Linked DNA regions of Homo sapiens. The protein of the gene in region 1 interacts with the protein of each later gene in a pairwise test. Each region holds a gene or a part of one and is shown in the gene's direction. Other genes may lie near its edges.

What was found.
Region 2: the proteins of SNTG2 (region 1) and SCN5A interact in a two-hybrid assay, tested with the Homo sapiens proteins (one study listed by IntAct).
Region 3: the proteins of SNTG2 (region 1) and PALS1 interact in binary tests that used the Homo sapiens proteins (3 or more experiments, as listed by UniProt).

What each region holds. Positions count from the first base shown.
Region 1 is NC_000002.12:944,308-955,082, forward strand, and holds the start of SNTG2 (gamma-2-syntrophin), read left to right. Parts: upstream 1-6,541; 5' UTR 6,542-6,689; coding exon 6,690-6,761; intron 6,762-6,977; exon of another isoform or gene 6,978-7,085; intron 7,086-10,775. UniProt on the Homo sapiens protein: Adapter protein that binds to and probably organizes the subcellular localization of a variety of proteins. May link various receptors to the actin cytoskeleton and the dystrophin glycoprotein complex.
Region 2 is NC_000003.12:38,644,677-38,655,438, reverse strand, and holds the start of SCN5A (sodium channel protein type 5 subunit alpha), read left to right. Parts: upstream 1-5,751; 5' UTR 5,752-5,908; intron 5,909-10,762. UniProt on the Homo sapiens protein: Pore-forming subunit of Nav1.5, a voltage-gated sodium (Nav) channel that directly mediates the depolarizing phase of action potentials in excitable membranes.
Region 3 is NC_000014.9:67,298,528-67,308,504, forward strand, and holds part of PALS1 (protein PALS1), read left to right. Parts: intron 1-2,861; coding exon 2,862-2,939; intron 2,940-3,444; coding exon 3,445-3,591; intron 3,592-3,882; coding exon 3,883-4,044; intron 4,045-4,994; coding exon 4,995-5,072; intron 5,073-9,977. UniProt on the Homo sapiens protein: Plays a role in tight junction biogenesis and in the establishment of cell polarity in epithelial cells.

The sequences.
Region 1 (10,775 bases):
TTTGCTATTGTTTGAGTTCCTTATATATCCTGGATAATAGACCTTTGCCAGATGTAGAATTTGCACATATTTTCTTCCATTCAGTCAGTCTTTCCTTCACTCTGTTGATTGTTTCTTTTGCTGTGCAAAAGCTTCATAGTTTTTGGAATATCATTTGTCTATTTCTGTTTTTGTTGATTATGCTTTTGAGGACTAATCCAAAAAGTCCTTGCTCAGTCCAAGGTCATGAGGTGTTCACCCTATGTTTTCTTCTAGTAGTTTCATAGTTTGGGGGTCTCACATTCAAATATTTAATCTGGTAGTTTCATAGTTTGGGCGTCTCACATTCAAGTATTTAATCCATTTCGAGTTGATTTTAAGTGGTGACAGATAAGGGTCCAGTTTTATTCTTTTGCATGTGGCTATCCAGTTTCCTCAGCACCATTTATAAAGGTGGTCCTTTCCCCACTGTGTGTTCTTGGTGTCTTTGTCAAAAATTACTTGATTGTAGATGTGTGGATTTATTTCTGGGCTTTCTATTCTGTTTCTTTGGTCTGCATGTTTGTTTTTATACCAATACCATGCTGTTTTAGTTACTATAGCTTTGTGGTATATTTTGAAGTCAAGTGGTGTTGTCACAGGGTGATCTCCAAAACTGGGGCTCAGCCTAGGAAGCCAAGTGGGTTCTTGCTTTAGCACAGGAAAGAACTCAAGAGTGAAGTGGCAGAGAAAAGCAAGAGCAAATTTATTAAGGAAAAAAAGGAACAAAAGGAGCCACTCCACAGGCAGAGCAGGGCAAGACTATAGGAGGGTATTTCCAGGGTTGCTTCTAGCTGGCTGTCTTAGCGCGATTTCTTCATTATATGTTAGACAAGCGGTGAGTTATTCATGAGTTTTCAGGGAAAGGGGTGGGGAGCTCCTGGAACTGGGGTTTCTCCCCCTTACAGGGTAACTTCCGGGCATTGCCATGGCATCTGTAAACTGCCATGGTGCTGGTGGGCATGGCTTTCATATGCTAATGCATTATAATTAGAGAAATAATAAGCACTGAGTAGGACCAAAGGTCATTTCTGTTGCCATCTTGGTTCTAGCTGGCTTTAGCTGGTTTCTCTACTGTCTCTGGTCTTATTAGTGGAGTCATGTGACCTGTTGTCTTGGTAAACAAGTCCAGCTGAATTCTTATTTCAGCGTGGGCTTTTGTTTCCCTCAAGATTGCTTTGGCTCTTAGGCTTTTTTTGGTTCCACAGGAATTTTAGAATTTTTTTTTTCTATCTCTGGGAAGAATGACATTGGTATTTTGATAGGAATTGCACTGAGTCTGTAGATCACTTTGGGTCATATGGACTTTTTAACAATATTAATTTTTCCAATCCACAAATACAAGATATCTTTTCATTTATTTGAGTCCTCTTCGATTTCTTTCATCGTTTTATAGTTTTCAGCACAGAGATCTTTCACTTCCTTGGTTAAATTGATGCCTAAGTATCATTTTTTTTTTGTAGCTACTATAAATGAGCTTGATTTCTTTTTCAGATTAGCCACTATTCATGTATAGAAACTCAACAGATATTTGTGTGTTGACTTTGTGTTCTACAACCTCACTGAATGTGCTTATTAATTAGTTCTAACAACTTTTTGAAGGAGTCTTTAGGGTTTTCTATATGTAATACCAACTCCTCTGCAAGCAAGGACAATTTGAATTCTTCCTTTCCAATGTGGTTGCCTTTTATTTCTTTCTTTTGCCTAAGTGCTAGGCTAGGACTTCCACTACCGGTACAGAATAGAAGTGATGAATATACTCTGTGCAGGCGTGAGAGTGCTTTTGATTTTTTTAGGAAACATTTGTTAAGTACTTAATGGAAATGGCACATTATTTCTGCAAATTACTCTGAACAGGTTTCATGGAAAGTAATCTGCATATAAATAGAGAGAAGCTGAGTATTACCTGGGACTTGAGTGAAAGATCAAGGGCACAGCAGCCCCAGCTATGTGCGGTTTCACTTTCTGTGGTCCCAGGTGCCTGTGGTCAACTGCAGTCTGAAAATATTAAATAAAAATTTCCTGAAATAAACAGTTCATAAGAGTGAAGTTGTGCCCTGAGAAGCATGGCAAATCCTCACACCGACGCCTTTGTGCCTCTCAGGATGTAAGTTGCCCTCTCAGTTCATAAGAGTGAAGTTGTGCCCTGTTCTGAGAAGCATGGCGAATCCTCACGCCTTCTCTGTCCCATGAATTCACTGTGTGCACCACACATCCTGACACTTAGTAGCTGTCTGGGTTATAAATTGACTGTCCAGGTAGCACAGTGCTTCTGTTCAAGTCTTGCTTAATTTATTCAGTATTGGCCCCAAACACAAGACTAGGGCAAAGAGAAGCCATAAAGTGCTTCCTTAAGTGAAAAAGTGAAAGTACTCACTTTAATAAGGAAAGGAAAAAAATGTATGATGAAATTGCTAAGATTTCCAGTGTGGTAAGAATGAAACTTCTAGGGGCAGAAAAACTAGTTACAGAATGGTAACCAAGTGTGAAACAGGAAGGTAATAGGTCTTCCTTGCAGAAATAAGACTATGCCTGGAGGGGGAATAGGTTCAGTTAGCAAATCAAGCAATATAAAGGATGTTCCCACAAGGCTGTCAGTCCAGAAAGTATTTTAAGTTAATTCGAAAATGAAACCCAGCTGCGCATGGTGGCTCACGCCTGTAATCCCAGCACTTTGGGAGGCTGAGGCAGGCGGATCACCTGAGGTCTGGAATTTGAGACCAGCCTGGCCAACATGATGAAACCCTATCTCTACTAAAAATACAAAAAAATCAGCCTGGCGTGGTAGTGGGCGCCTGTAATCACAGCTAATCAGAAGGCTGAGGCAGGAGAATTGTTTCAACCAGCGAGGTAGAGCTTGCAGTGAGCCGAGATCGCGCCACTGCACTCCAGCCTAGGCGACAAGAGTGAGACTCTATCTCAAAATAAATAAATAAAATAAAAAATAAAAATAAAAATAAAAATAAAAATAAAAAAGAAATCATGCTAGTTTTGCTATCACATTTCAAACTGCAAACGTTACGGCTGCAGTGAGTGATAAGTGCCTATTTAAGACGGAAAAGACGCTGAACTTGTAGGTAGAAGACATGAGCGGAAAGGTGTTCCCACCGAGGGCACGTCAGCGCAGAAAGCACAATCCCATGGGAAGACTTCAGCAGTCAGTCCCCCAAAGTGAGTGACACTGAGCCATTCATGGCAAGTGAGGCATAGCTACACTGATTTAGGAGTGGGCTTGTCACGAAACCAAAAACCAAAAACCAAAAAACTGGAGAGGCTGTGTTTGCCAGTGAAGAAGCTGCTGCCATATTTCCGGCAGAGTTGAAGTTGATTAAAGGGAAAGGATGCCATCCAAAGCAAGTCTTCAATTGCAGTGAGACCAGGCTCCTCTGGAAGAAGATACCCAACAGAACCTACGTTCTTGAAAGGGCAAAGAAGGCCCCAGGGCATAAAACACTGAAGGGCTGATTTACCCTGTGCCGTGTGCAATGCTGTAGGACGTGTGGCCAAGCCAGGTGTGCTGCACACACAGAGGAACACTTATGCTCAAAAAACAAACGTTACCTGCTTGTGTTCAGGCAACATAACCAGAAAGCATGAGTGGTAACCACCATGTTTATGGAAGGGCTCCACCAGTACTTCCTCCCAAAGCCTTGGAAGGGGGAAGGTTGGAATATAAAGTCTCATTAGTAACAGACAATGTACCTGGCCATTCTGAATATGTTGACTATAAAAATGACAAGGCCAAGGTTGTATTATTATTAAGACCGGGTCTCACTCTGTCGCCCAAGCTGGAGCGCAGTGGCATGATCTCGGCTCAATGCAACCTCCGCCTCCAGGGTTCAAGGGATTCTCCAGCCTCAGCATCCCTAGTAGCTGGGACCACAGGTGCATGCCACCATGCCTGGCTAATTTTTGTATTTTTTTGTAGAGACGCGGTTTTACCATGTTGCCCAGGCTGGTCTCAAACACCTGAGCTCAAAGCAATCTACCTGCCTTGGCCTCCCGAATTGCTGGGATTACAGGTGTGAAGCACTGTGCCCGGCCTCAAGGTTGTATTTTTACCTTGAAATACAACCTCATTGCTCCTGCCTTTTGACCAGGGCATCTTCCAGTTTGTCTAGGCCACATACATCAGTTTGGTCAGCAATTGATGCATACATATATATGCATATATATATATATATATATATGCATGCAATTGATACATATATATATGCATGCAATTGATACATATATATACACACATACATAGTTCAGTACTATCCACGGTATCAGGCAGCCACTGGGGGTCTTGGAACATACCCATGAGGATGAGGGGTTACTGGAGTTTTTTGTACTACATTTAGAAAGTTTCTGTAAATTCAGAATTATTTCAAAGTTAAAAGTTAATAAAGAGACACTAACTGCAACTGGTTTTAGACACATCTCAGAATCAAAGCTATACTCATCACAAAAACCAGAAAGTTGAATTTTGGTAACCTCATGGGGGACATTCCCTCGCAGAGTTTCAGGATAGTCAGGGTTTTACTTTTTATTGTTATTGTTATTGCAGTAGAACCCTAGTATTTAAAATAAGCAAAATAACCCTTACGTGCAGTCCTGACACAGATGCATAAAAGCAGATAGGCAGTTAAAACTTGAATTAATTAGCCTTTCAAAAGCAGCCCCAGAGCGCCTACGACGTCCTGGAATCACAAAATTTTATTATAGAAAGGATTCCAGAGATTGTTAGCCAAAACTACATTATTTTACAAATGAATTAACAATTACCTTTGGTCTGAAAAACAAAAATATATGTGTCTATTCATTTAACGATAAAATTTTAACAAAAACTTGTCTCTCAAAGTCAACATTTATGCATGCAACACGCTGTTTTTCCTTCTTCAGGCCCTGGAATAGAATGTCCCTTTGCAAGGTAATGAGACAATATCTTTGTGCTATTTGTAGACATTTAATTTCTCAGAGATTATATGCACGCTCTTTTAAAAATGCAATTTAAAGGCAAACAATAATCTCTTGTACTTTTTCTTATTCTAGGTTTTGCTACAAATAAAAAGTAATACAATATTTTTTACCAATTCACCCAAGAAGCATATTTTGTAACAGCCACTGTGCCACGTATAAAAAGACCTGGTTTTTGCTATTCAAGAGCTTGTCCTCTGGTTAAACTGAGTGCTAAGAAGTGCTGGCAGACTGCCGTGAAGGTGAAACAGGAATACAGAGAATAGAGAAATGGGGAAGGGCGTCTGTGTTCGAAACCCAGGTCTGCTCAGGGGTCAAGCAAGTCGGAGTCAGAAAAAGTAAAGTGTTTAACATCGAGTTTTCAATATTTATTTGTTTACAATGCGTCACATTCTGCTCCTAGATAGGGTTAACCTCTGAAGACCTCAGATTTCGCTGCTTTTCCTTGCCGTGGAGAGGGAATAAAACGGGCATCGTGGCCTCCGCGATGGGCGCTCGTGCCTGGGTCGAAGGACTGGGGGGCGGAGGATTTGGAAAGGGAGAAAAATACGGGCTGGCTTCTTTTTAAAAAATGTGGGTAGCCTTGCCTGCCCCCGCCGCACTGGAATTTATCCTAAACTTACTTTCATTTACATTAAAACAAGACGATTTGAGTCTACCAAACCCAATACTGCATCTGTGAGGCTCCTTTTGGCACAAACCTGAATGAACAGCGGGAAACGCCGTCTCCCCTGGCGTCTGAGATCTGGGGTCCCCTCCCCACCTGGTCTCCTCGCTCCCGCCCCAGCCCCGTGCGCCCCAGGAGGGCACCGCCGAGCGCCGGGTCCCCGCAGGGTTCGGGAGACTCCGCGGACCGGAGGAGGGATAGGACCCCCGAGCTTTGGGGGCGGGAAGGGAGGGTGGAAGGAGGAGGGGAGCGGGGTTGGGGAAAGTTGGAGCTTCGGTATCTTTTCTCCGGGCCAGGCCGTCCTCGGGGCCCTGCGCTGCGTCTCCAAGTGCTGGGAAGACTCCGCGGGGAAAGGTCTGAGGACGCGGCCGGCTGGCACAGGTGTGGCGGCTTCAGAGGGCCGGGGAGAACCCATGGCTTCGAGGCTGTGGACTAGAAATGTCCCTGATTAGAAGCTGAGAACCTTTGGCCAGGGAGGTGGGGCGGCGGGGAGGGGTCGTCAAGCCGGTCCAGAGCGCGCCCACCTGCGCCACAAGGGAGAAGAGGTGCCCCCCGCCCCCCTCCGCCCACCGCCGCCACGATGCGCCGCGGACCTCGGCGACCCAGCCCGGGTAGAAGCGCGCGCTCCCCTCCTCCAGCCTCGTGCGCCGGCCCCTGCCCCGCCAGCCCCGCTATGGTCCCCCATCCACCCCCGCGGGAGCGCCCCTGTCCCCCCATCCTGCACTTCCCCCAGAGTCGCGCGCCAGTTTCCCGCCCCGTGGAAGCGCCCCTCTCCCGACTTCGGCTGATCCCCGCTCGCCGCCCTCCCCGCGGGTGCGCGCCCGGCCCCTCCCTCGCCCGGGGCGGGTCTGCGTGGGCGGTGCTCCGGGTCGGCGGGCGGAGCTCCGGTTCCCCAGCCCTGCGCCCCGGTGGAGCCCGAGCCGGAGCCGGCAGAGGGGCGCGGGCGCGGACGCGGCGCCTGGCGGGGCCCTGGGAGGCTCGGACGGGGTCCTGGCGTTGAGCTCGGCCGGCCCGGAGCGCGGACCCAGCCGCAGGGGCGGCGATGGGCACCGAGGGACCCCCGCCCCCGGCCGCCTCCCGCGGACGCCAGGGCTGCCTGCTGGTACCTGCGCGGGTGAGTGCGGCCCCTCAGCGCCCCTTCACCTCCGGCCCCCCTTCCCTCTCCTTCGCGCCCTTCTCCCCCCGCCCCTCCTCCCTCCACGCCCCCTCGCTCCCCGCGACCCCTTCCCTGTCTCCGGGGACGGCTGGCCGGAGGGTGGGCGCCGGAGCCCCGGGACGCAGTGGGCACCCGCCCCCTGGCCGCTCTGCTCCCTCCAGCCCAGTGTCTTACTGGAAACTTGCAGGCTTTGCTCCTCCAGCGTCTTCCAAGGTTTGGTTTTGAGGCGCCCGGGCTTCCCTTTACTGCGTGGGAAGTAGTGCTTTCCAGAATTTGGGATTTGAGATTGGCCCGGCATTGCTTCCCAGGAGCGGCTCTTTCGGGCCCAGGCGGTGGCTCGGACCGGAGCGTCCCCCCTGCAGCCTTCGGGCGCCCAGGCCAGGTCTGAGTTGGCCAGTTTGAGCCCAGCCAGGTGCATGGCGCGGCCTCGGCAGGTGCTGGGGGCTCTAGGCCATTCGGGGAACCGCTGGGACGCCAACTGGGTAATACGGATTTCTTTTTTGAAGTCTATTCTGGTTCCCACCCTAAATAACTCCCTCTTCACCTTCTTATTTTTAAATAACTAAACTATTGATTGACAGAAAACAGAAATGTTGGCCCAAAGAAAAACGAAAAGTTCTTGGAAACCTTCAAGTTGCCACCCACAGCACAGCCTCGAGTTGTGAAAACAGTTTAAGGGAGCACGTGGCCACCCCAGCCCTAGGAGGCTGCCGAGAAGCGCGGCTGTTAATGAAAATGCATTGACAACCACTCCTTTAGGATTCCTTCCCCAGGAGCTCCCAGTCCCAGGAGCGACCAGGAATACAGTTAGCCCTCCCTTATAGGACAGTGGAGAGACGGTTCAGAAGGCCACGGGTTGAGGGCTGCTACAAATTCCTATCGTCATAATAATGATTCTAAACTAGGACTGTGGTCGTCGCTACTGTGATGTTAAAAAGATTTCTATGTAGAGACAGGTGCATCTTCATTCAAGTAGCACCTTTCTGGGCTTTTACTACAAAATATGAAAATTAAATTTCATGTAAAATGTGGGTGTTCGTTTCTTGAAGTACTTTGTAATATGAATAGCTATCCCACTGTTGCCCATGGTAATCAAACCCGAGAAAATATGCGGGGATTACCTGGAAATAAACCGCAGTAAAAACTGCAGGCGCTGTGGAATCACAGGCTTTCCGTCTGGTCACTGCCTTCAGCTTTATAATGATGCCCTCCCACGGTTAGGGATTGTGCATTTTTCTCCAGACATTCGAGCAAAGCAATTCTTGCTTTTAATCATTGTAATTATAGCGGAAGCGTTGAAGTGGATTCATCATACTTCATGATTGACCCACTTGATGAGTTATTGGCAATAACGTCAACAAATAAAGCAACTGCGCGTATTCTAGTAAATGCTCTCCTTTGCGCTCAGTATTAATTAAGGTGCTAAATTTGATGTTTTCCAGTCAAGAGTGGCCTCTGCTCACCTGTTTGCTACAAGATGTGATTGGCGCTTTCTTTCTAATAAGGACCTTGATTATTTGAAACAGCCTGTCTGAATTGTATTGAAAGAAACTTTTTTTTTAGCGTTGGAGGCCAAGTATTACAATAAGATGGAGCATTTTAAGAGCAAGACTCCTAACTTTGCAGTCATAAGTAATTAGGTATGTGCTAAGCCTACCTTAGACACCAGTGCATGGTCATGTTAGCTCAGATTCTTATGTATTTAAAACGAATCTGTTAAGTATTGGTGTTGGCAGGTTTGTCTTGAAAACATGAATGTTCTTAGTATACAATGTCATCCTTACTTAATGGCAGAATTATTTTCTTACCATAACTGCACAATATTATTCAACTTGTGTAATTATTTAATCATTTCAGTTAAGAGAACTTGGTGCTTTTAACTAGAAAAAGATGAAAGTCTTTTCTAAATCTTATATTTCTAGTTATATTTTTTCTATCTGAAGTCAAAACTATACACATTCTTTATCATGACTGCTTGTTTGAATCATGGAATTTGGCCACGTTTGAAGGTCTCCTGTTCGGTAACAGACCTGTTTTGTTTCCCCTTTCAAGTGCCTGTTCCCGATGTTTTTTTCTAAGTTAAGTGAGTTCATGGAGCTCTGTCTCTGACCATACCTGGATTTGAGGGGTAAAATCCCACTGGCAGACAACCTCAGTACAATGTGCGAAGTGTGTCTTGCTTGTAGCTTCAAAGACTACTATTGGTTGATGTTTACAGCACATTTGCTGCTTTTAAATGACAACACTTCTTCAGTCTGGGGCGCTGGAAGAATTATTGGCATGAGCCGGGAACATGCCCATTTATGTGATGAGCTTGCCCACTGAAGGGGGAAAGCACGTTAGGTCATTTTAAAGGTGCATGTGGGGTAAGGGCACCACCTAATCATCTGTTTACAGATGTGAATTGCTGCATGAGATGAATGAAGCATCTGAGCTCCTAAGAAGGTTCCCCATTCCTTCTATGCTTTGGTTATGTTTCTCATCCTTGCTGACTCATCTTTAATTTCAACTGTAGAATTTCTATTGACGTCTATGACATCATAAGCAAAATCCATGCATTACAAAGCAGGCAGTTACCTGACTTTACCAGGAGACATGGAGACATGTTCCCCAGTAAATATTTGAATGAGGTCCAATTAAGAAAAGTGTGCCTTGTTTTTGTTTTTGTTTTTTTCCAACATGGGATGTTAAAATTGCCTTGTTTTCTGAATGGTGTATGTGGAGCAACAGCTTCTTGTCTCTGGATATCTTTATGGATGATGACTGTAGACAAGGCATTTAAGCTTCAGTTTTAATTTAGATCTGCTTCTCAAGATACCCCATGAGGCTCTGAGTGAGTTGGCAGAGGGGCTGGCATTGCAGTTCTCGGTGACAGAGGGTGTGTTTGCATCGCAGGCCTCCTATTTACTAAATGGGTATATTCAGGATAGACTTACTAAGCAGTGTGATTTTCTGGCTTTCCTGTTAGCTCATGTAGCATGTGACAGCAGGCACACGAGGGACCCCAAAGAGGAGCTGCTCTCAGGCTCTGCTGCGCACCCCTAGCTCCTGCGCTGCTGGGCATGGGGCGGACACAGGCAGGTGCTCGTGGAAATGGAGAAGGAAGGAGGGAGATCAGGGTTCCAGGGAACTCAGAGAACCCCGGCTTCGGGAACCACCATCCTCTCTGGCTCTGGCTTCTCACCTGTGGAATGTGTGCTTGGGTTCCGAAGGTCACTTTGTATCTGATTCCAAATCCCTCAGAAACTCACTCTTTAATTAGTTCTAGAGGTATTTTTGTTGAGTGAGACACAACAAGGAAGGTGGAAAACATGCTTTTGGAGGAAAAATGCACTCAGGATTTAATGGAAAATGGACCTTGAACTGGTGTGTACTTGTCATTGTTGTCCAGCTGGTTACCGCATGTTGTCATGACTGTAGTTTTGAATAGTCGACTTTGGATTATTTTCAGCTAACACTAGATGTCACTTTCCCCCAGTCCATACTAAAGTTCCCTGTAAAATTCAGGAAGCCGAGGTTATCCTTCCTATTTCTGTATTAAATGCTAAGCTCCCCTATGTGGGTGTAATCCCTCACCTGAGGACTGACCCCAGCCTGTGGCTCTTCATCCCCTGCCCCTCTGAACAAGAAGGCCCTCCAAAAGCTCACCCATTTCTGGCTGCCTTCCAGGGACCGTGCTGCTTCTTCACCCCATCAGCCTGAACCTTCCTGTTTTCTCCCCTTGCACATTTTAATAAATACTGTTAACAATGCTGTGAATATGAGGATGTGATTTTGCAATTAGAATTACATGTTAAAATAGTTTGCTTTTTAAGGAGTCTACATTTTTACATCCTATAAATATGATTATAAACTAGCTACATTTTAATTTAGCAAAGACTTTGGATTTAAGAAAGTGAGTATGCTTCTTATTTAGGGGATACTGTTCTAAACATTTGTAAAATGTAAAGTTATATTTTTAGTGCAAAAACT
Region 2 (10,762 bases), on another chromosome or scaffold:
TTTTTTTTTGTTTGTTTGTTTTGAGACAGAGTCTCATTCTGTCACCCAGGCTGGAGTGCAGTGGCACGATCTCGGCTCACTGCAACTTCTGCCTCCCAGATTCAAGTGATTGTCCTGCCTCAGCTTCCCGAGTAGCTGGGATTCCAGGCACCTACCACCACACCTGGCTAATTTTTGTATTTTTAGTAGAGACGGGTTTCACCATATTGGCTAGGCTGGTCTCGAACTCCTGACCTCAGGTGATCCGCCCGCCTCGGCCTCCCAAAGTGCTGGGATTACAAGCATGAGCCACAGTCCCCAGCCGACAGTGAAATAATTGTAAAAGGACAAAATGTACAGAAGAGGGGCCAACAGCGGATATGATGACAACTTCCTGCAAGTTTGAGCCATAACTGCCAGAGCAGAGTGTGTCTGCAGAGGGAAAGCTGGCAAAAGAAAGCAAGGGATAGCCACTCTCTTCAAAACCCTGGAAAGTTCTCAGGACTCCAGGCATTGGGTACCTTCAAAAATGGGGAGGAAGAGTGAGGTTAAAAACACCAGAGCTAGTAAATAGTTTGTATTTGGAGTAACTGAGCTACCAGGCCCCTCCTCACCCAACACAATCTGGCTGCGGGTGGCAGAGAATCCTGTCTTATTTGTTTAAACAAAGAGTGAAAGAGAAGGCCAGGCGCGGTGGCTCACGCCTGTAATCCCAGCACTTTGGGAGGCTGAGGCAGTTGGATCACGAGGTCAGGAGTTAGAGACCAGCCTGGCCAACACACTAAACCCTGTCTTTACTAAAAATCCAAAAATTAGCTGGGCATGGTGGCACGTGCCTGTAATCCCAGCTACTCAGGAGACTGAGGCAGGAGAATTGCTTGAACCTGGGAGGCAGAGGTTGCAGTGAGCCGAGATCGCGCCACTGCACTCCAGCCTGGGCGACAGAGCAAGACTCGTCTCAAAAAAAAGAGCATGAAAGAGAAGTACAAAGGTATTAGTTCTATGGTTCACTGTCATCAAGGCCAATGTTTCTGCAAATCTCCCAGCCTTACCTTCAAGGCTGAGAGAGGTTTTGTAAGCGCCAAGCATTATGTCCTCATTCAAGGCAGGGAGAATCAAGAAGAGGAAGACAGTAGAGCCAGCAGCTCTTGTCCTCTTTTACCAGGAAAACAAATGCTCTCTCAGAAACTGCCCTTCCCTAGCAGAAGTTTGCTTCTGACCCTTGGCCCTCATTAAGTTACATGGCCGCCACTGGGTATAGGAAAAACTGGAAAGGCAAATACTGTTTGCCTCTTACAGCCTTCATGGAAGAGGCAGGCAAGGAGAAAGAGGGGTGGGGATGAATGCGGAGCAGGCAGAGTTTCTTGACAAGTGGGCAGTATAGATGGTAATGTCAGTGCCCAGTATCAGAGATGTTTTCTCTTGGGCTGGTCAGTGTCTCAATGTGAAATTCCCCAGCCCCCTGCCTAGTGGGAAGTGCACATAAGAGTCAGAGTTCCAGCGCCCAGCAGAAGGAGGAAACCAGGGTTCTCACTAGACCCTCTTACTTTCAGTAAGGCTCCTCAAGCCTGCCTCCACTGTGCCAGATGCCCTCCATCTAGAGCTCACAGATAGCCATCTGCATGAGGCAGGACCAGCCTCTGCTGGGGAGGGCTGGGCAAGGCGTTTCTGGGTCTGCTGGCTTTTGTGTGGCCTTTCCCCCAGGCCTCCTGTTCTCAGCCCCAACCTGCACCTCCACCATCTAAGATGCCTCCTGGTCCTGACTGTTTATGGATCCGAGACCCCACTTGCTTCTTTGTCCACCTCCACCCCTGGAATTAGCACAGTGAAGAAAACAGAAACACAAGACAGTTACTACTCTTCCAGCCATTTACCTTCTTCAATCTCTCACCTCAAGGGGAATGGATTAATAAAGTGCTGTGGATGCAGAACACAGAACATTCTGCAGCTATCAGAAGCAAAGAGCCAGCTGCCTACACCACAACACAGATACAGCTCAAAAGCAGGGTGTTGAGGGAGAAACATAAGGAAAAGAAGGAAATCTAGAACGATACCCATTTATATAAATGAAAAGCACATACACACCAACAGCCATTAATCATAAAAAATGTGCTCAATTTCATTAGTCATCAGGGAAATGCCAATTAAAACCAGAATATGAAACCTCTGCACACCCACTGAAGGAGATAAAATGAAAATGACAAAAGTATTAAGTGTTAAAGGATGCATGCATTCACTGCTGGTGGAGTGAATACTGGTGGAACCACTGTGGAAAACTGTCTGGCAACATCTGCTAAAAGCGAACACACATTATCCTATGACTCAGCAATTCCACTCCCAAATATGTACCTGGCAGAAATGGGTACATATGTTCATCAAAATTTATGTACTAGAATGTTCATAGGTGTGCTACTCATGAACCCCAAACTAGAAACTACCCAAACACCCATCAGCAGTAGAATGGGTAAAGTCTGGTATATGCATACAATAGGATGCTGTACAGCAACAAGAATGAATGAACTACAACAACAAGCAGCAACATGTGACTCTCATGAGCGTAAAGCTGATCAAAAGAAGCCAGACACAAAAGAGCTCCTATTATACAATTCCAGTTTAAATAAATATCAAAACCAGGCAAAACTAGCAAGGGGAATTCGATGTGACTGTAGTAGTTAACTCTGGGTGGGTGTAGCGGTGGTGACAGAAAGGGGCACAAAGAGGTCTTCTGTGGTACTGATAACGTTTGGTTTCTGTGTTGTGCTGCTCACACGGATGTGTTCAACAACAGAAAACCCTTTCAAGTGAACACTTAGGATTTGTGCAGTTTTCCATTATGTAGGTTCAATGGAAGTAAAACATAAAAAGAAAAGCTTTGGGCTGTTAGAAGAGAAAATGCATATGCACAAACAACAATACTACCTGTTTTACAAGGATGTGCACATAAAGACCTACTTTAGCTCCTAGAGGGGTGCCTGTGTGGAGAAGGAGATGGCAGTGGAGTGATGATGGGGGAAGAAATAAAACAAAAACACAAGAGAGGAGTAATGATATGGTTAACCCAGCTTTGAACCTGAGGCAAAGTAAAGGCAAACCCTGGGCGAAACTGAGGGGCGAATAAAGGACATACTAGTTTTTAAAAACATTTATCTCTGACAGCTGACAACATGTTCCTGTTATTGCTTTAATTAAATAGGGTTGGCCAGACATGGTGGCTCACGCCTGTAATCCCAGCACTTTGGGAGGCCGAGGTGGGTAAATCACGAGGTCAGGAGTTCGAGACCAGCCTGGCCAACATGGTGAAACCCCGTCTCTACTAAAAATACAAAAAATTAGCTGGGCATGGTGACGAGCACCTGCAATCCCAGAGACTCAGGAGGCTGAGGCAGGAGGATTGCTTGAACTGGGGAGGCGGAGGTTGCAGTGAGCCGAGATCACGCCACTGCACTTCAGCCCTGGAGGCAATGCAAGACTCCGTCTCAAACAAAACAAAACAAAACAAAACAAAAAATTTAAATAGGGTCTGGCAAAGAGAAGGGAGTAGCCAAGATCTTGGCAAGGGCTCTTTGTAGGAAGTGCCTGTCTCCAGACACCTGTTGCCTGTCTCTGCACTCTGAGGCCTCTCTAGGACCACAAGGTGTGCTTTTATGGATGAACTTCTACAGGTTCAGAGCTCTGGTTCCCCATCCCCTGGGCTTCTCTCCCCCTGTTTAAATTCAGGGTGCATGTAGACTTACCAGGCTCAGCCCACCTCTCCTGCTGGCAACATCCAGTTGCCCAATACTAAACAGGAGAGTGAAAACCCCACTTCTGCTACATATGGACGGAAGGGAGGCAGGTATCCACCCCTACTCCCAGCAGCTTCTATCCTAGCCTTGTCTCCTGCTTGACCCAATGTCAGTTTGCAAGTAGAAGCTTCATTCTGAGGCCGAGAAGCCCGTGATGGAAGTTCTTAGGGGAGGTAGGACCTTCCTGCTACTGTACTCTCCTGCCTGGTAGGTGTGACTCTGGGAAGGCGGCTGCACGTGGGTTGAAACGTTGACACTGCCTGCACTTCCCCTTCTGGCCGATAGTGGGAGCTGCTAGCCAACCTGAGGCTCGTCAGGCGCTAAAGGCTGGCAGCCGACCTGTGTGGTCCATCCGTCTGTACCCCAGACACCCCACTCAACTCGGGGCCGGAGAGGCCCATGTCCTGAACTTTCCTGTGGACTGACTTTCCTACTGATCCCCTCCTGCAAGCAGAGCAGCCCCTCCGTATGTACCTAAGGCGTCCAACGAAGCCCCACACCCAGGTCGCAAACGGACGCTGTCCCCCACCCCCCTCTTTGCCCTCCCACCTCTTCAAGATCCCCATCATGGAGGAGCAGGTCCCAGCCTCTGGGCTCCCAAACCCAGCACCTCTGTGCCCTCTGAGACCCTGGCACCCATTTGGCTCTCTAAGAGCGGTTCTTGCTTTTGGGAGCCCTGAAAATGTGGCAGAAAAGTGTACCATCCCTTCCAATGACTGTACTTTTTTCGTGGGCAAAAGCTGATGGCCTGTTTTTTGTTGTTGTTTTGTTTTGTTTTTGTTTTTGTTTTTAGAAGCGCAAGATTTATTGTGAAGAGGGAAAGAACAAAGCTTCCACAGCGTGGAAGGGGACCCAAGCGGGTTGCCCTGATGGCCTGTTTTGTTTAAACAAGAAGTGTGTCCCCATAGGTCCTGGGCATGGGCATGGGAGCAACTGTTTGTCAGCGTATGTCTCCGTGTGTGTGTGCCTGTGACCATGTCTCTGAGTGAGAAACAGTGGGTGTGTAAGTATGTGACTCCAGGCTCTGCATGTGTCAAGGTGAAGGTTGTATGTGGCTCAAGAGGGTGGAAGTATATATATAAAGAGGTATATACATGTATATATATGTATGTGTGTGTGTGTGTTTGCGCGCGCGCGTGTGTGGGTGTCTCTGTGTTGGTTGCCTGCTTGCTTCTGGGTCTGGGTGTGTGTTTGGTTCTGTCAGCATGTGCGTCCGTGTGTTCAGGTAGATGTGTACCATTGTGCAGATTTCTGTGGCATCACTAAGTGTGTCTCCAGGAAAGTGTGGTTCGAGTGAGTGTGTGTGTCTCTGTGTCAGTGTGTCAGTGGATGTGTGTCTAAGTCATGTGGGTGTCTAAGTTTGTCAGAGTGTCTTCCTCAGTGTCAGTGTGTGTCAATGATGTGTCTGTCTGTGTCTGTGTGGGTGTGTGGGGGTGTGTATCTGTCTCAGGGTGCATGTGTGTGTCTGTGTCAGTGCAGGTATGCCTATGGCAGCGTGTGTCTGTCTCGGCATGAGTGTCAGTGTATGCCCGTGTCCACGTGGGTGGGTGGGTGTCTGGTAGCCTTCCCAAGTCAGCAAGGTTGCGTGTGTGTGTGTGTATACTCTGGCGGGTGCTGGTGTGTATGCCAGTGTTTGTTAATGTGAGCCTGTCCGCGTCCGCGTGGGTGGCCATCTGTGGTGAAGCGTCGCCGGGTCGCCGTGTGTGTACCCCCGCCTATGTCTGTCTGTCCGCGGCCGCGTGTGCGGCTGTCTGTGGCTGTGAGCCCCCGGGTCAGTGTGGGAGTGTGCGCCCCGGCGGGCGCTGGTGTGTCCCCCCTCCGAGCGGGCGGAGCACCACGTGCGGAGCCCTGGGCGCGTCGCTCTGGGGCGGAGCCAGCCCGGGGCCCCAAGCCCCAGGCCGAACCCAGGCGGGGCCCGCCCCGACCCCGCCCCCGACCCCGCCCCCAGCCCGAGCCCGCGCCGCCTGCCCAGCCCGGGAGCCCGAACAGAGCCGCGGAGCCGAGACGGCGGCGGCGCCCGTAGGATGCAGGGATCGCTCCCCCGGGGCCGCTGAGCCTGCGCCCAGTGCCCCGAGCCCCGCGCCGAGCCGAGTCCGCGCCAAGCAGCAGCCGCCCACCCCGGGGCCCGGCCGGGGGACCAGCAGGTGAGCGAGTGCCCCCGCGCCCGGCAGCCCTGGCCCGGCCGGAGCCCCCTCCGCCTGCCGCCGCCCAACTTTCCTCCCCGAGGGCCGAAGCCTCCAGTCCCTGCGTGCTCCTCCCTGCCCCGGGTCCGCCCAGCCGCTCCCTCCCCGATCAGTGCCCCAGAGAGCCGGAGGGGGAGAAGGGGCGCAGATCCGCCCGGCTGGAGGGTATCCCCGGGGGAGACGTCTCTAAACACCGTGCGCCCCCCTTCCCTTCCCTTTCCTTCCGGGTTTCCCGGTGCGCTGTCGAGGGCCGGGGGAGGGGGAGCTGCGGCCCCAGCTTCCCGGCCATCCCTGGCGCAGGCTCGGGGAGGGTCTGGGATTGGGACCCGGATACCGGAGGCCGGAGACCCCAAGGTCAGAGCGGCGACTAGGCGCGCCATGAATGTGGTTCCAGAGAGCGGGGTTTGCGGGGGCTGACCGAGCAGGGCTGGATATGGGGGAGGAAGCCACGCACCCCCTTTCTCTGGGCCCAGGGGGAACCGTCCGCTGGGGCTGTCCTCTCTGTGGGACGAGATCTCTGCGCGTTTAGACCATGTAGAGATCTCGGTGCCCTTTGACGCCCTAAAGGGGCCGCATCTCCTCTGTCTGATCTCTGTGCTTCTCGAAGGGGTGGAGATCTCTTTGCGGTGAGATTGGAGAGAGTTCTCTGCCCTCCTCTCTCTGAGCCGGAACAGATCCACGCACCCTGATGGGAGGTGGCTCTCGACCTCTGTGTTATTTGATCGTCTTTGGTGGCGCTCTGGAAGAAAGTGGAGGTGCCAAGCTTTGTCCGAGAGGCCAAGAGCTGGTGGGGGCCAGAGGTGTGGGGACTGTTAGTGGTGGTGATGAGGATGGGGGGAAATGATGTTGGGGACAAGTCCCTGGCTGTAGGCCTGCCTTGCAAACACCTGTTGGAGAGCAGAGCACAGCCAGATCAGGATGCCATGGCTAAGATAGTGCAGGACTCACTCTTGTGCTCCTCAGTGCCTTCAGCCCAGCCCCGGGCCATGGGATCTATCTCCTCTTAAGGTCCTGGGCCTATGTTCCATTCCCAGGCATCTGCTCGCCTCCTGCTGAGACCCCAGGTGTGTCTCCCAGTGAGCCTAGGCAGTATCATCCAGATGGCAAACCACGTGACCCCCACCATGCCATGGCATCCCAAGCCCTCTCCCAGGTTCCCACCATCCTTCAGGATCTAGTGGGACCGTGAGCAGCAGAGGCCCCAGCTACTGGGGGCCCAGGCCATTGCCGCTGCCCTCAACTCCATCTGTTTGACCTCATCTCCACTCAGTTAGAATTGGGCAGGTGCATATGAATCGGTGGTAATGAGTGCGAGGTGGAATGAGGGTGGTCAGGCTGCTGTTGCAGGAGCATGGAGAGGGTGAGGTCAGGTGACAGCCAGGGTGTGGAACACAGATTCTATGTTACAGTGTCCAGCTCTGTGCTGAAAAGAGCCTCATTAAACTTTTAATCATGTCATCACTACCATATCATACAAGTGGGGAAACTGAGGCCCAGAGGAGCTCAAGGACTTATTCAATGTCATCTAGAGAATCAGTGGATTGGGGGCACCACGCAATGTGAAGACACCTTGAGATCTACTTTCTGTGGGGCAAATAAGCCTAGAACTGAGCCAGGAGGATCTGAGCAGAAGGGGAACTGGCCCTGGGGTGCCAAGAGCCAGCATTCAGCCCAATGTGGCAAGGGCAGCTGCTGTGCTCCAAGGTGCTCGGCTCCCTCTCTGTGTGTTGATCAAAGCTCCTCTGGAAAAATTCTAGTATTGACTCACTCAGCATGAAGATTGGGCTTGGAGGACTAGTGGGAAGCACCAGAGACAGCTGGGGATGGGAGAAGAGCGGAGGCTGGTGCCCAGGCAATCCAAAGAGAAGGGAGTCCTGAGGGCAGCCAGGGACAGTGGCAAATTGCAGTTTGTGTTCTGTTCAGAGGAGGCTGGCTTATGCTCACTCTTGGGAAGGTTATTGGAAGGGTGTGCAGTGGTAGAAGTGTGTCCCCAGAGCCCATTCACAGGAGAGGTGGTTACCTTTGGCCGGAATAGTCAAGAATCTTATTCTAACAAAAATAACCTTCCACACTGGGTTTTGAAGGGTGAATAGGAGTTTTCCAGGCAAGGACAGTGCAGTCTAGCTGTCAGGACCAGTATGTACAAAAGACAGAAAAGTGAAACAGCACAATTATTAGTTGAGTGATTCGTTGGGCCCCATGGTGTGAGGAAGAGAAGAGCGGAGTTAAAGCCAAGGTCACAGTCACGGGGGCCCTTGTGAGCTCTGCTCAGGAATTGGGAATTTATCCTCAGTAATGTTACTAAAAATAGCTAACATTCACTGAGTGCTTTCTGCAGGCCAGGCATGGCACTAAGCGCTTTATACGGTTAATCTCACTGAATCCTTGCATCAACCCTAGAGGTAGGGACCATCATAATGGCCGTTTTGCAGATGGTGAAACTGGTGGTCCAGAAAGGTTAAATAGTTGCACACCGTCACATTTTCTAAGTAGCAGAACTTGGGTTTGAGCCCAAGTGTCAATATCTGCTGTGTACTATACCACCTCCCCAGCTCAGACCATGGGTGCCATGCAAAGTCTTTCCATTGAAGGAGAGGCGACTGGCAGCTTACCACAGGTAATAGAACTTATGGTGTCCCATCTTCCTTCTCTGTCAAGTGACATGCTGCTCTCCCATTCCCCACCTCCAATGTCTCACTAAGTGAGGTGTGCTGCCCCCTGGCGCACCATGAGAAGAAGAATGGGCAAGTTAAATTTGGGTTGGCAAGCTTGATGAAGAGCAAAGGAAAAGTGACAGATGTTTCATGGTTCTGATTTGAACCTGTTGTACTTCCAGGGACAGATGCTGACATCCAGAAGGTAGTTGGAGGGAAGGGTCCAGGTAGGAAGTATGTTCAGGATGGAGATCTGGGCTGGAAATGGAAACTTAGAGCTTTCAGCAGAGGTTGGTCATTGGAGATGTGGCACTGAGTTAGATTGCCCAGCGAGAGTGCAGACCTGGGGTTCTCACTCCTGGTGACATTAGCATCACTTGGAAAGCTTTAAGTAAAAATACCTATGCTCAGGCTCCAGCCCTAGACATGCTAATTCATTTGACCCTGGGATGAGGCCTGGGCATCGGGAGTTTTGGAAGCACCCAGGTGATTCTAACGTGGTGTAGAGGGTAAGAAGGAAGGGGGCTGAGTCAGGAGCCCAGAAATACTCCAACCATCAAAGCAGGAGAAGTCTGCAGAGAAGGCTGAAAAGGAGCAGCCAGAGAGGTAGGAGGAAAGCCAGGAGTAGGAGGCGCTGCAGAAGGCAAGGAGAGTGCCCTGCTCGGGGGGAGGGAAAGTGCCCTGTTTCTTTCTGCTGAGAGACTTAAGGTGCATTCTCAGAAGTTCATGGATAGATAGAAAAAGAATGAATAATTTAAAAAGAAGTGTCCATTAGATCGAGCCATGGTGAGGGTGCTGGTGACCTTGGTAGGAGAAACTCCACTCAGCGCCCGCAGAATGTAGGGCCCAGTACAGACAGGTTCTTGTTGAATGAATGAATGAGTGACTTGGTGGGAATGGAAGCCAGTTTGGAGTGGGTTGAGAAGCGAGCTGGAGGTGAGGACGTGGAGACAGCATGTATAGACAGCTCTTTCAAAGAGTTTGATGGTTGAAGAGGGAGGAGAGAGATAGAAGGGAGCTGGCGAGGGGTGGGGTCAGGGAGGGCTGTCGGGAGAGCCTGGAGTGGACACTGTGGGCATGCGTGTCCGTGCAGCACATCGCCATGCAGGAGCCTGGGGGAAGGCCTTTCCCTCAGTGAGGGCTGCAGGTCTGTGAGTTAAGATCGTACCAGTGAAGTGTGTAGTGGTTACTGTTTGTTCAGGGGGCAGTCAGGAAGGCCTGGGTAGAGGGAATAACTCTTTCTGTGAATCTCTGGGAGGGAGATTTTGATGGCAGGAAATGTGATTCCTGCTGGGGGTGGCAGGCAGAAAGGGAAGGGAGCCCTTGCTCTGCAGAGAGAAGGGTGTTCCAGAAAGCCGTATTTAGGGACAAGATTAAGTTGTCTAGGGCAGGTATCCAGGGTGATAGGATTGGGAGAAGGGAGCTGGAGTAAAAGCCCTGCGGCTAAATACATGAAGAAGGCAGAGAGAGGAAAAAGCAGGGCCAGTGAGTAGCCTGTGGACAGAGGCTGGGCCCCGTGGGGAGCAGACCCACGACAGGGCTGGCCAGGGCTGCAGGGGAAGCCTGGGACGGGAGAGCCCCACAGCCTGCTGCCAGCCCAGGCTGCCCTGATGCAGGGGTCTGAGGCAGAGTTCATGCCTTTGGGCCATGGAAGGTTCTAGAAGGTGTACAAGCTATAACAATTGTTCTTATGAAGTTTACATACAAGTAGGGAGATACCATTAAACCAATCCATACAGAAGATAATTTGAGATAGGGGCTAGTGCTATGAAGGAAATACAACAGGACAATGTGATGGAGAGACGTGGGGGTGACTCTAGACTGGCTGGGCAGGGAAAGCCCCTTGAAGGAGGAGACTGAACTGAGACCTGAATAACATGAAAGAACCAAGCCCGAGGAGGTCTAGGGAAAGAATGTTACAGAGGGAACTGCAAGTGCAAAGGCCCTGAGGCAGGGGCAAACTCTGTGGGTTGGAGCAGAGGGAATAGGGTAGGGATGGAGAGGTTCTGTGCCTCTGTTTCTGACCCACCCCTTCAGACTGCCCATTCGGCTATGCACAGCTTACACCACTCGCCTCAGGCTGGCAGCGGTTCCTGGGGATGAGACTATTTTTAGACACAACTCTCCTATCCGTGGGCCTAGAACATACCGTGTCTTTTTA
Region 3 (9,977 bases), on another chromosome or scaffold:
AATACTATTATAAAAACTATGAGTAGCGTGATCTCATTTTGGTAAAAATAAATGTCAAGAATAAAGAAGGGGTATATACATAGAAATTTTCTCAAAGTTTAGATGCTATGAGTACATTTTTGGAGTAACTGACTTTATTGAGATATAATTTACATGCACTTAAAATGAGTGTGTTTTATTGTATAGTTCAGTGTATTTTGACATATATGTACATCTGTAAAACATACAACTGCTATCAAGTTGTAGAAGCATCCATCACTCCACAGAGCTTCTCTCCCACGGCCCTTTGCGATGACAATCACCTCTTTCAATCCTCAGGCCCTATGAATATCCACTGATTTGCTTTCTGTTTTACAAATTTGTCATTTGTGGACATTTCATATAAATGTAATAAGACAATAGGTGGTCTTTTCTGTCAGACTTCTTTTGCTTAGTATAATGTTTTTGAGATTCATCCATGTTGTTCTTGTATCAGTAGTTTGTAAATTGCTGAGTATCATTTCATTCTTTGAATATCCCACAATTTGACCACTTACCTATTGATGGATATTTGGGTTGTTTCCTGTTTATGATTCTAGCAGGTAGGTAATGGTATCTTGTTTTGATTTGCATGTACATAGTGACTAATGATATTGAGCATTATTCTATATGTGTATTGGCTATTTCTCTATCTTTTGTGAAATATCCGGTTAGATCTTATTTCCATTTTAATCGTCTTGAGTTGTAAGAGTTCTTAATATATTCTGGCTACAAGTTCTTTGTCAGATACATATATCAAGGTGAATATTTTGGTAAAAACAAGTAGCGAAATGTAGGAAGGATATATACCAAAGTGATTATCCCTAAGTATAATAAAAGTCCATTCTTTTACTTCCTTCCTTTTGGTTATCAATTTTCTGATTTTTCACATTTAACATACATCATTTTTATAATTAAAAAAATAATTAGTTTTAAAATACAAAAGGGTCTTGCCTCTGAAGGAAAACAAGGAAAAGTGGTATAGCTAAAGAACAGTACAAGGTCAGGAAAAGGTATTTTTAAAGATAAGGGATTAGAGTATTTTTATAGGCCAATGGAAAGGAGCAGTAGAATAAAAGAATAGCCTTTTAATTCCTTAACACCGTTGTAGAAGTAGCTGATGATATGTGTTGACACTAGAATAAGCAACATATAGGTTAGTAGGGCAGTGGGTAAACACGGGAGTTCTAAATTTCTTTAGAAGGTAAGATCTCAGAGATGTTTAGGAACTGACTTAAAAGTGGGAATAGGGAGAAAATCTCTAATACGGAAAATTATTATTGAGCTGACTCAGTGTATTTTGTATACCCTTGGTACATTTTTAATCCAGAATTATCTTCCCATCCTCAGAGTTTCTTCAGCTGTCAAAAGGTGTATGATCAAGACTACAAATTTCATTTAAAATTAATGTAGACTTAATAAACTTTAAAAGGGAAAATACCCTCTTTTAAAAACAACTTTTAGTTACCCACAGTCTTAAATCCTGGGTCTTAAAGCCTTAAAGCCTTGTCCATTGTAAGATTTTAGTTGAGTTCTTGAAGAAGATAATATTTGCTGTGCCGTCCTGTTTATACATATGGAACTCTACAATTAGAAATATAATTTTCTAAGTACCAAAACCTGAGGACAGACTGGTTTTGGTACTGTCATTGCTTTGATCCACTTGCTGTGGTAAAATTAATTAATCCCAAAATTATCATCTCTTGGGTTTCATAGGAAAATTACTGATAAAATGATTTAAAATAGCCATAAAAGGTATAGAATTACTGGGTTCCTGTATTATGAATTACCTTTTTTTTTTTGAGAAAGTCTCATTCCATCATCCAGGCTGGAATGCAGTGGCGCCATCTCAGCTCACTGCAACCTCTACCTCCTGGGTTCAAGCCATTCTCATGCCTCAGCCTCTTGAGTAGCTGGAATTACAGGCACACGCCACCACGCCTGGCTAATTTTTGTATTTTTAGTAGAGACAGTATTTTGCCATGTTGGCCAGGCTGGTCTCGAACTCCTGACCTCAAGTGATCTGCCTGCTTTGGCTTCCCAAAGTGCTGGGATTACTGGTGTGAGCCATTGTATCTGGCCTGTTTTAAGATTTTCTTAATCAGTCTTTGAAGCACCATAAATAGTAGGTGCCATTCTAAAGATAAGGAAACAGGCTAAAAAAATTTATAACCAAGGGGAGTTTATCCTAGGAAGACAAAGATTTCTCGACTGTGGGAAATTTAATGTAATCCATTATATTATGGTGATTGTTCCATTACACTCATATAAATTCATCTTGTTAGACTGTCAGTCTTTTTTTTTAATTATATAAAAAAATTTATAAAATAGAGACAGGGTCTCACTGTGTTGCCCAGGCTGGTCTCAAACTCCTGGGCTTAAGCAATCCGCTTGCCTCAGCCTCTCAAAGTGCTGGGATTACAGGTGTGAGCCACTGCACCCAGCCTGACTATAACTCTTTAAGTTGTCATCTCTGATTTTAAATAGTCACATAAATGATTTAAAAACTATAAAATAGCAAGGTAACTGTTAGGACAGTTTTTCTTTTCTTATGTAATTATTATTAATGAATTTTATGGTATGTTGGGTGAAACGTTCAAGATGGAAGTATTTTGTCTATAGGCGTAAGTACCAAAATATTATTTAGTGTTTTTTTAATAAGAAATACTGTTGTTTTATCCATAATAACAAGATTGAAAACTCTAATAATTCTTTTTAGTGATTTTATTTCTTACAAGTATTTTTATTATTTTAATTTGTACTTAAAAAATATGACCCTGCATACAGGTGCTACTGATACTTCCTATAATCTAGGAAGAATAATCTTTATTTTTGTTTCTTAGGTACAAACTGTTTTGAAGCCAGTTCATCATAAGGAAGGACAAGAACTAACTGCTTTGCTGAATACTCCACATATTCAGGTAGAAAATGGACAGAATACTATATATGTGGTTTTTCCAGCATTCTTCTATTTTTTTAAATCAAAGACTCCAGTACTGGAAGAGATGTCAAACATTCTCTAGCCTATTTTGATGTTTACAACCCCATCTATAACATAGTAGTTATTGTTGGATTATATATTTTCAGATTTAAAATGAACCAAATTATTTTTGAAACAACTTTTTCTTTAAAAATTAGGCAAAAATTCTTCCCCCCTTTGGTTGTATTTTCTGTAAGTTTAATTATCTAGGGTGTGTAGACCTTTACATTGATGTTATCTTCCGAAGTTTAGTAAGCATTTTAGACTTTCATAACCCATTCCAGAGTATGCCCTTAGTATACTTAACACATCTTTATTATTAGCTCTAATTAATTATAACACTTTTAAAGATTTAATGGTCAGAATACTATGTACATAGGTTAAAAATCACTCTGCAGAAATAAATCATGCTGTTACTTAAAATGCCATGGATTTCTTTGAAACAGGCACTTTTACTGGCCCACGATAAGGTTGCTGAGCAGGAAATGCAGCTAGAGCCCATTACAGATGAGAGAGTTTATGAAAGTATTGGCCAGTATGGAGGAGAAACTGTAAAAATAGTTCGTATAGAAAAGGCTCGTGATATTCCGTTGGTAAGTGTCCCACATACTGTTTTTAAACAAGTGCATTTTTCTGCTGTTGTGTGCTTCAAAAGTCTGGTTAATTTCAGAATTCTAATGAATAGAGTATTTCTGAAGCAGAAAGTGTGGGGGAAATGGTCAACTTTTAAATCTAATTACAATTACTCTAGTTGTGTAAATAAATTTTTTCTTAAGATAACTGAAGGTTAGTATTGTTGAATGGAAAAAATAGAATTTAAAAATAAATGCTTAACAAAAATTGTATTATTTTTATTTTTAAATTATACATATATATATTTTTAGGGTGCTACAGTTCGTAATGAAATGGACTCTGTCATCATTAGCCGGATAGTAAAAGGGGGTGCTGCAGAGAAAAGTGGTCTGTTGCATGAAGGAGATGAAGTTCTAGAGATTAATGGCATTGAAATTCGGGGGAAAGATGTCAATGAGGTTTTTGACTTGTTGGTAAGTTGACGCAGCTAGAAGAATAATTGATAGCTTTTAGAAAGCTCTTATTAGACTTTAGAATAAAATATTTTTAAAATAACTGTTAAGAGCACTAGATGATTTCTAGCCTGATTTTTCCATGATGTAACTGTTCCACAGTATTTGTTAGCAGTTTTATTTTTGGGTGGTACCACTGATATTTTTTTACTTTCTGATGTATCACTATCACATATATTTTATTTTTCTGGAATCAGTAATATAACTCATTAATTCACTCAGTACATATTTATTGAGTGCCTAATATGCACTAGCCACTTGGGAAACAGTAACAAAACAAAGTCTGTGTCCTGATGATTTTTTGTGTTCTTTTATTTTATTATCTGTAATTGATTGTTGTTTTCCTAATAATATTAGATAATAACAGTGCTATAGATCTGCAGTGTCCGGCATAATAATCACTAGCTGCATATAGCTATTTCTGTTTAAATTAAGTAAAATTTAAAATTCAGTTCCTTATTCGCACTAGCTGCATTTCAAGTGCTGAGAAGCAGTATGTAGCTAATGGCTACCATTATTAAGATACAGAAATAGCACATTTCCATCATTGGAGAAAGTTCTATTGGATAGTGCTAGTATAATCAGAAAATCATTTCTAGACATCTTTTGAGTGCAATTTATGATCACTTTGTACACACGCACAGACTAGATTTATGGTCCTAGTTATTCAGCATCTGTTATTACAGTGGAATCTGTACTATCTACTGATTCTGTTGTAAAATCTAGAGACATCTTCACACACTTATTTTCATCCAGCCCCATTCATTGCTTTGGTAGAGCAAAGTGCTGCTGGTCATTTAAGTCTGTGGAGGGGTTCTGAAATAGTCCAGTTTAGGGAATATAGATCATAAAATCATGGAATGATTTTCATAAATGCAAATTTAAAAAATAACCTGATCTTTCTATTACAGTCTGATATGCATGGTACTTTGACTTTTGTCCTGATTCCCAGTCAACAGATCAAGCCGCCTCCTGCCAAGGAAACAGTAGTAAGTGATTTTTAAATGTTCATTATTTATGTGTTTGTGGATGCTGTTTACTTCTGTTACTGTTTACTGTTACAGAAATGTCACTGTTTCCTGTACTCAAATAAATTCAATCATTTTTATTTAAATAAATATGAAATATCAATGTTTTAAATTAGTAAACTCTGCACCTTTTTTTTTGGAAGGTGGAAGATGGAATCTCCATCTGTTGCCCAGGGTAGAGTGCAGTGGTGTGATCTTGGCTCACTGCAACCTATGCCTTCCAGGTTCAAATGATTCTCCCACCTCAGCCTCTTGAGTAGCTGGGATTCCAGGCGCATGCCACCACACCCAGCTGATTTTTGTATTTTTGGTAGAGACAGGGTTTTGCCATGTTGGCCAGGCTGATCTTGAACGCCTGGCTTCATGTGATCTGCCTGCCTCGGCCTCCCAAAGTGCTGGGATTACAGGTGTGAGCCTTCACATCCAGCCAACTCTGCACCTTTTTAAAATAAAAAGTAGAAAATAATTTCAGTTTCAGAATTTTTTTTATAGTTATAGGTGGGTTTACTTAACTTAGTATGGAGTAGGGCAAGTGCTTTTTAAAAAGTATGTGTAACCCTTCTTTTAGAGTATATTGTTCTGTTAGACATTTACTCAGCTAGATCTGTTAAAAGTCAGTCTCCATTACCATACAGTCAAGCAATTGCATTCCAAAGTATATATCCAAAAGGACTGAAAACATATATTCACATAAGAATGTCTACATGAATGTTCATAGCAGCAGCATTCACAGTAGCTAGAAAGTAGTAACAACCCAAATGTCTGTCAGGTGATGAATCAAAGACAAAATATGTATGTATGATGGGATATTATTTGATAATTTTAAAAGCCTACAGTACTGATATATGCTACAACATGGATGAACCTTGAAGAAATTATGCTGAGCGAAGGAAGCCAGTCACAAAAGGCCATATATTGGTTCATTTATATAAAATGTCCAGAATAGGTAAATCCATAGGAGAGAAAGCAGATTAGTAATTCCTTAGATGTGGAGATGAGGATTTATGAGGGAATGGTGATTACTAATCAGTACCAAGTTTCTTTTTGAGGGCATAAGTATGTTTTAAAATTGTTTGTGGTGATAATTGTACAAATCTGTGAATAAACTAAAACCATCCAATTGTGTACATGAGTGAATTGTATATGAATTATATATCAATAAAGCTATTTAAAAATGAAACTTTAAAGTGTTGAATTAACATGGAAGCTTGATGTATTGCATCTGTTATTCTTAACTTTAAAGCATAGCAGTTTGAGAAAGAACACAGTTTCATTTTTCTCTCAATATTTCATCACAGGTATGCTTTATAGTTTGGCTATCATTCCATGTTTTCCCTTAATTTTTTACAGAACATACGGAAGTTGATATTGTATCTGCAACCTACTTTATGTTTACAGTTTTTTTGCAGGAAGAGAAATGAGGAAATATAGTTTGTCTTTGAATTTAAACAGCTTGATTCTCTGTGCATTGTGCTGTTCCCTGTATCTCTTCTGTGTATAAGCCCTGAACTTCAAAAGTAGCTCTGCAAACTGAGGAAACATAACAGAGGAGGGTTGGAATATACTCCTACTTACTTATCTACAATAATCCATCCCTCCTGAGTAAATGACTTTTGTCTTTTGAGAATAAATGTCAGAAGTTAAGACATTTTTTTTTTTTGAGGTGGGATCTGGCTCTATTATCCAGGCTGGAGTGCAGTGATGTGATCACGACTCCTGCAGCCTTGACTGCCTGGGCTCAAGCAGTCCTCCTACCTCAGCCTCCCTAGTAGCTGGAAACACAGATGCATACTACCACATCCGGCTAATTTTTTTGTACTTTTGGTAGAGATGGCTTTCACTATGTTGCCCAGGCTAGTCTCGAACTCCTGAGCTCAAGTGGTCCACCCGCCTCGGCCTCCCGAAGTGTTGGGATTACAGACGTGAGCCACAATGCCCAGCCAAGACATGTTTTCTCAACATTTTTTTCCTGCTATTCATGCAGAATCTGGAATTCTGTAAAAGAAAAGCCATTTTTTTCATGGATAGAATTAATCGAAGTGTTACATTGAAACTTGTTGATTCTCGTTGTATGCAAAACAGAATATCAAAGCAATTAACTTACACAGATTGTTTCAACCTAAGAATGAAATAACTTACTTATCCTTTAGTGGTTATTTAACCCCCAACTTTCATTATTGATTAAGAATAAAAGGCTGGTTTAATCTGAAGACCAAAGGAATATAGGTTCATGGTGAACAATCTCTGGAACTACTTAACTGGAAAATGAAGTAGCTTAAAAAGGAAGAAAGTGGGAGAAAGAGCAAAATGCCACATCTATCCCTTTTAAAATGGAGCTTTTTCTGTTCTTTTTACTTGGAGTCTCACTCTTGTCACCGAGGCAAGCAGTGGCACCATCTGGGCTCACTGCAACCTCCGCCTCCCAGAGTCAAGCAGTTCTCCTGCTTCAGCCTCCCTAGTAGCTGAGACTACAAGTGCATGCCACCACATCCAGCTAATTTTTGTATTTTTAGCAGAGATGGGGTTTCACTATGTTGGCCATGCTGGTCTCGAACTCCTGACCTCAGGTGATCTGCCCGCCTTGGCCTCCCAAAGTGCTGGGATTACAGGCATGAGCCACCGAACCCGGCCTATTTTCATATTTAAAGTAGGGATCTTTTCAGAATAGAGTGATGTGCAGTATTTTTCTTTTCCTTCTTTTCTCTTTTGTTTTTTGTTTTTTTTGAGACAGAGTCTTGCTCTGTCGCCCAGGCTGGAGTACAGTGGTGCGATCTTGGCTCACTGTAACCTCTGCCTCCTGTGTTCAAGCATTCTCCTGACTCAGCCTCCCAAGTAGCTGGGATTACAGGCGCCCGCCACCATGCCTGGCTGAATTTGTGTGTGTGTGTGTGTGTGTGTTTGTGTATTTTTAGTAGAGACAGAGTTTCACCATGTTGGCCAGGCTGGTCTTGAACTCCTGACCTCTGATGATCCGCCCACCTTGGCCTCCCAAGTGCTGGGATTACAGGCATGAGCCACCATGCCCAGCCCCTTCTTTTCTCTTTTTATTATGAATAACTCTCAATTGCAATATATCTTGCCAAGTTTTGTCAGACCTAACTGGCTTAAAATGAACTGCTATTATTAAAGCTCATTGAGGCTGTCCAGAAAGGAAACAGTAATAGGAAATCATAATCTTGGTTGACATATGCAGAATAATTATCTATGGAATTAATAATCTAAAGAAATTAGAACCAATTTATTGAGTATCATTATGGTACAGGTCAGCATCTGTTGATAGCAGCAGCAGCAGATATCTTCCTGATTTATGTTTTGTGATGTTAGAAATGTGTTTAAGACAGATATACAAAATAAGTGTTATCTGAAACCCCTATATAATGACTTGTTGAATTATGATGTCATGTATGGCAATAATAAGCTGTGTCAGAAGTGCTCTCTTGAGTTCTTAAATTTCTTTTGTATCACACATAGCAATCAGTGGCTGCTCTTTCAGTAGCAGAGGGCAAGAGTCTTGGCACCTCTGTATTTCACTTCCTGAGTAACTGGCACATTTGATCTAGGAAATGCATACATTATTCAAACGTACAGTTTCCTTCTCTCGGCCTTTTTAAAAAAAGGAAGGATTGGATTTCCCAGACTAGTTTGTAAAACTTTAGATTATTCTATACTATAATAATATGTAGGGAGGGCATAATAGACTTTTATCTGAATGGGACTTTTTCATTTAGTCTAATGCCATAATCTAACAAGGAGTGTATTTAAATGAAGAAGGATCACATCGCTTATTAGTTACAGAATATGTACCAGAAAATTAACAGATTATTGATTGTTTAATACATATAAGCTATTATTATGATTATGTACTCTGTGCCAGGCACTACAGAGATAACTGTGTTGTAAAGAAAAGTTGAGAACCACTGCTATCAAATACATTGCTTTCCCATTATAGGTATAAAAATGTATTAATAAAGACATTTATTTCTTGGTGGATGTGGGGAAAGGAGAAATTCTAGTGTTGTGTGGAGATACTTAAAAACTTGCTTGGTGCTATAAAGGCTTTCCTTGACTCACTTTCACTATTTTCTCTTCTACAATGAACTTTAAGAGTTAAAGATAAATCTGCGATAGTAAGAGATACAGAAATAAAAATTACAAAGAAAAATATTTTGGTAGCAGAGATGTGGAATCAACCTAAATGCCCATCGATGATAGATTCGATAAAGAAAATGTGGTATATATACACCATGGAATACGAATGCAGCCATAAAAAAATGAGATCATATCCTTTGCAGGGACATGGATGGAGTTGGAGGCCATTGTCCTTAGCAAACTAACACAGGAACAGAAAACCAAAAACCACATGTTCTCTTACATGTGGGAGCTAAATGATGAGAACACGTGGACACATAAAGGGGAACAACACACACTAGGGTCTTTCAGAGGGTAGAGGGCAGGGGGAGGGAGAGGATCAGGAAAAGTAACTAATGGGTACTAGGCTTAATACCTGGGTGATGAAATAATCTGTACAACAAACCCCCAACACACAAGTTTACCTATGTAACAAACCTGCAGTTGGATCCCTGAACTTAACAGTTTAAAAAAAAAAAAAGTCAGTGTAAAAAGTATAAAAGCCAACCTAATACTTAGACAATAGAAAAGGGAAAAACCAAACTTCCTTTTTTTTTTTTTTCTTTTTTTTCTCTTTGATTTTGAGGGCGTCACCAATGTGATAGCCTTACCTTCATGAGTACTAACCTTTCCATTAAGCTAATCCCAAAGTTGTCTCCCAAGTACACTGTCCAGGTGGTTGTGGCAAATTTATACTTTTCCAAAGGAGTGTCCATTGAGCAAGTGGAATATAGATCC